2 separate regions of the Homo sapiens genome follow, and region 2 is linked to region 1. Evidence: fine-mapped expression QTL. A gene starts in region 1. The other region holds a variant in brackets. All regions are shown on one strand. Distances are between the middles of the regions. Region 1 holds the start of GANAB (glucosidase II alpha subunit). Region 2 overlaps BSCL2 (BSCL2 lipid droplet biogenesis associated, seipin).

Evidence for each region. PIP is the estimated chance that this variant, and not a neighbour inherited with it, causes the effect.
Region 2: its variant is the best candidate, but not a certain one, in a credible set for the expression of GANAB in whole blood (INTERVAL, PIP 0.89).

Annotation. Positions count from the first base shown.
Region 1 is chr11:62,645,664-62,648,163 of GRCh38, forward strand. GANAB (glucosidase II alpha subunit) reads right to left here and starts at 950. Exons shown (of 24, transcript NM_198334.3): 1 at 899-950. The coding sequence starts at 936. It overlaps INTS5 (integrator complex subunit 5), which reads right to left. Exons shown (of 2, transcript NM_030628.2): 2 at 1,185-2,500. The coding sequence ends at 1,357. RefSeq lists an enhancer at 272-431 and a silencer at 1,042-1,121.
Region 2 is chr11:62,700,374-62,702,873 of GRCh38, forward strand. BSCL2 (BSCL2 lipid droplet biogenesis associated, seipin) reads right to left here. Exons shown (of 11, transcript NM_001122955.4): 3 at 2,095-2,176. It overlaps HNRNPUL2-BSCL2 (HNRNPUL2-BSCL2 readthrough (NMD candidate)), which reads right to left. Exons shown (of 24, transcript NR_037946.1): 16 at 2,095-2,176. Among named protein-coding and RNA genes, the nearest start is that of BSCL2, 5.8 kb to the right of the region's middle. The variant G/A (reference allele first, on the strand shown) is at 1,437.

The DNA of each region.
Region 1 (2,500 bases):
CTGTTGGAGGGCCCTAAGGAATTCACGGCGGCCTTGACCACCCCAAGAGAGGTGTTCATAGGCCAAAGTCAGGAATAAGCTGCAGGGCAAGTTGCACGCATTTATTGTTTCAGATCACAGGCTCCGAGGGAACTGAGTTTATGATCCACGCTTTCTTCATCGCTTTGGAGAGTACACGCCTACCCCACCCCAGTATATCCGTTAGGTCCTAGTAAACATTTGTGGCACTGGTGATATGTTTCGAATCTTTTTTTTTCCCCAGTAATATAAACCCGAGAGCGTGGACCAAGCCATTCGATTACATGTTGTGTTTGAGCAACACCATCCACGCCGTGAGCTTACTGGACCCTGGGCCGTGCCCAGCGACCGTGGACACTGAACTAAGCCAGAGCTGGTGCTCACGTGAAGACAAGGGCAGAGGAGGATTCGGAGCTCTACAGGGTAGAGCCAGAAGGGTAGTACAGGCTTAACTGCTGGCCCGGTGCTTCCAGCTCAGCCGAGGGGCCGCGGGGCCGCAGGCTGCATTCCCCGAGGCCAGGCCGCATCTTTTCCCCCGCCCCGACGACCCCGCGCACTGCAGGAAGGGGGCGGCGACGTTGACCGCCGCAAGCAGCCAAAGGAGGGCGGCGGCTGAGAGCGGCCAAGACCAAGAAAGACGCACAGCTGTGGCTTTACTAAACCGCCGGGCGGGAGCCCGGAGCCCCACAGGCAAGGCCCCCAGCGTCGCTCGGATCTACCACGGGGAGACCGGAGGCGTCTGAGGCCGCCTCCAGAGGAACAAAGGTTCCTCACGAGGCCGGGGGTGGCAGAGTGTCAAGAGACACACAGGAAGGAGTGGAATGGGACTTGGGGGATCTGGGGGCGTCCCGGGCGCGCCCCCAGATTCCGGGCTCCTCACCGCCTCCTACGCGCCGCCACTGCCGCTACCGCCGCCATCTTGTGCAGAGTTTGCTCCTTGACCCCAAACCTCCCGCCCCATCGCGCGCGCTCAGCCACGTATCCTAGTTCCCGCCCCTTCCGGCCTTATGATTGGTTCGACCTGAGCGCCGCCGGGCAGCTGTCTCATTGGTAGAGTGCGCACTCCAAATTATCGCAGGGGGCGGGGCTTCAGGCCAGGGGCGGGAACGTCCAGAGCCAGGCGCTGTCAGACTTTGCACGCTCTCAGCATGACAGAAGCACTGGACTGGTTTTCTCAAGTTGGCAAATTTTATTTAGAAAAAAAAAAGTGGGAGAGAAAAAAGTGACAGCGCTCTTTAGACCAAGGACTTAGAAGAGAAACCTCCACCCTTCCGGAGCACGTTAGTCCCTTCCCTCTCTCACTGCTCAACCTCCCTGGGCTTCCAGAGCAAGAAAAGGCTACGTCCCCTGTCGAAGGAGAGTGGACGGTGAAGGTGCCTGGAAACGGCCAGAGAAAAGACCTAGGCGGTCGATGTTGCGGTGGAGGACACTGTGCAGCACAGCCAGATGGGGTCCACCCTCACCTCCACCCTCCCTGGAGAAGTCCCGAATGAAGCGACCCCGCTCTGATTGGAAGATGAACTTCTGAGGCAAGGGCCCATGCTCCCGGAGAAAACCCCAGACACTGAGCAGCAGCAGACGCACCTCGAAAGGTGCCAGTTGGCTAAATACTTCATGCATATTACCCAGGGCCGGAGGCAGGAGGCTTCCCTCAGCCATGACAGCCACTAAGGTGCAGGATGCCTCCAGGTGCCAGGGGGAGTGGGTCGTGTCAGGGTGGCGAGAGGCTTCCCAATGGCCCAAGAGGGCGGCCAGCAGCCCCCGAAGCAGCACGGAACAGTAGCACAGGGCTGGGGGTGCAGCTGCTACCAGCTTTAACAGCTCAAAGAGCAGGGGCTGTTCGCGGAAGCGCCGGCCAATGCGGAGATCCCGCTCCACGGTGGCCCGGGCGTGTTCCTCGGGGGGCCAGGCCAGCTCTGCACCAGCTGCATCGGGACACACACTCTCCACCAAGGTCACTGCCACTGCTTTGGCTGCCTCTGGACTCAAGATGGGTGCCCCCCAGCATTCCCCACATTCAGTGCCCCCTGGGGCACTGCAGCAGTGAACCAGGAGGCTGAGGAGGCTCTGGGTGTTATAGATCACTTCCTGCTGATTTCGTGACTGGACAAACTTGGGTGGCTTTAAGCCACGGCCGATGACTCCAGCATGGAAAACTGACCAAATCCCTCCAGGACCTGGCACAGCTGCAGTGTGCCTCCGGTTAGTGTCCAACAGGGAGGCAGAAGCCAAAGAAGCTGAAACAACTGAGAGAGTCTCATTGTCCCCATCTACTTGCCCACCAAACAGTTCTGTGTTGCCTCGATGTAAGGCTCCTTCAACCAGCAGCTGCAGGACAGCCTTGAGCCCAGCTGGGGATGTCTGAGACAGGCGGGTGAGAAGCTGACAGGCTGAGGCCACACCTGGGGGTCCATGCAGCCTCAGAGAGGCAAAGAAGCGGTGCACCCCAGCCCTTACCAGTCCCAGGAGCTGGGAGGGGGAT
Region 2 (2,500 bases), 55 kb after region 1:
CTCATGTCTGTAATCCCAGCACTTCAAGAGGCTGAGGTGGGCAGATCACCTGAGATCATGAGTTTAAGACCAGCCTGGCCAACATGATCAAACCCCGTCTCTATTAAAAATACAAAAATCAGCTAGGTATGGTGGCATACGCCTGTAACCCCAGCTACTTGGGAGGCTGAGGCAGGAGAATCGATTGAACCCAGGGGGCAGAGGTTGCAGCGAGCCAAGATCGTGCCATTGCACTGTAGCCTGGGCGACAGGAAAGAAACTCCGTCTCAAATAAATAAATAAATAAATAAAACTTCAGGCTGGGTGTGGTTGCTCACGCATGTAATCCCAGCACTTTTGGAGGCCGAGGTGGGTGGATCACCTGAGGTCAGGAGTTTTAGACCAGCATGACCAACATGGTGAAACCCTGTCTCTGCTAAAAATACAAAAGTTAGCCGGGTGTGGTGGTGGGCACCTGTAATCCCAGGTACTCAGGAGGCTGAGGTGGGAGAATCGCTTGATCCCAGGAGTTGGAGGTTGCAGTGAAGTGAGATCGCGCCACTGCACTCCAGTCTTGGCGACAGAGCAAGACTCTGTCTCAAAAAAAAAAAAAGAACGTATCCTTTATGAGAGCCTCCTCTAGCTTGCCTACTATAGAGGGCCCAGTCCCCATATGCATTTCTCAGGGTTCCCAGGTTTGTTGACATCACACTGGCATCTGGCCAGTCCTCTGGCACAGTACCCTTTGTAATGACACGATGCATATATTTGACAACAGTTTCATAATGTTATATAAATGCTTTCAAAACTCTTGGGTAGATGCCCATCTTATTCCAATGTAATAGCTCATTTGTTCATTTAGGTCTAAAACATTGCTTACTTCACCTAGCAGATATTGCTCACTTTACCTAGCAGATAAATAGATCATACTTCACCTGATACAGATGGTCCTCAGTTTATGATGGGGTTACATTCCGATAAACCCATCTAAGTTGAAACTATCACAAGCTGAAAACGCATTTAGTACACCTAACCTAAAGAACATCATAGCTTACTTAGCCTAGCCTACCTTAAACATGCTCAGAACACTTATGTTAGCCTACCTATAGTTGATTACAATCATCTAACACAAAGCCTATACTTATAATAAAGTAGTGAATATCCCATGTGATTTATTGAATGCTGTACTGAACGTGAAAAACAGGCTGGGCGTGGTGGCTGACGCCTATAATCCCAGCACTTTGGGAGGCGGGCAGATCACAAGGTCAAGAGATCCAGACCATCCTGGCCAACATGGTGAAATCCCATCCCTACTAAAAATACAAAAAAATTAGCTGGGTGTGGTGGCGCGCTCCTGTAGTGCCAGCTACTCGGGAGGCTGAGGCAGGAGAATCGCTTGAACCCAGGAGGTGGAGGTTGCAGTGAGCTGAGATCGCGCCACTGCAATCCAGCCTGGC[G/A]ACAGAGTGAGACTGTCTGGAAAAAAAAAAAAAAAAAGAAAGAGAGTGAAAAACAGAATGGTTGTATAGGTACCTGAAGTACAGTGTCTAAGGAATGTATGTCGCTTTTGCACCACAGTAAGTTGAAAAATTCTTAAGTTGAATTACCGTAAGTCAGGGACTATGTTGAGAAAGAACATTTCTAACACCTGCTGCAGAAAGATCCATCAATACACACAATTAATTTTAATTTCTTTTCCTTCAAAGCCTTCCTCTTAGTCTCCTTTTTTTTTTTAAGACAGAGCTTCATTCTTGTTGCCCAGGCTGGAGTGCAATGGCGTGATCTCGGCTCACCGAAACCTCCTCCTCCCGGATTCAAGTGATTCTCCTGCCTCAGCCTCCCAAGTAGCTGGGATTACAGGCATGCACCACCACGCCCAGCTAATTTTGTATTTTTAGTAGAGACGGGGTTTCTCCGCGTTGGTCAGGCTGGTCTCGAACTCCCAACCTCAGGTGATCTGCCCACCTCAGCCTCCCAAAGTACTGGGATTACAGGCGTGAGCCACCGTGCCCGGCCAGTCTCTTATTACTCAATTCCTTCTCTCTAGGCCTTTCTCAAGTCTTCCTATTTTGAGTCATCAAAGCTCTAATGAAACCTCTCTCTAGTTCCCATACTCACCCGATCACGTCCACCCTTAGTCAGCGAGACATTGGCAACAGGGAAGGAGCAGAGTGAGGTGGTGGAGGAATCACAGTCGGTCCTAAATGAGATTGGAGGAGGATACTCTGCTAAGTTAGTCTTACTAGTCCATCCATACACCTTCTTTGCCCCCTAGGGCTCCCTCCTGCCCTCCTCCCTTCTCTCAGAACAGGCACCCTTCTCTCTGTTACAAAGATGGAGAACAAATGTGGCCAGGAGATTCAAGATACCAGGATTATTTCATTCTCTTCCTATGACTTCAATGTATGTCCTCTCATTACAACAGATGTTCTTAGATGGGAATCTAGAGATACTTAAATAGTTGCATACTTCAGTGTTTCTAAAGACTTAAGGAGCTTGATAAAAATGTAAATTCCAGGGCCAA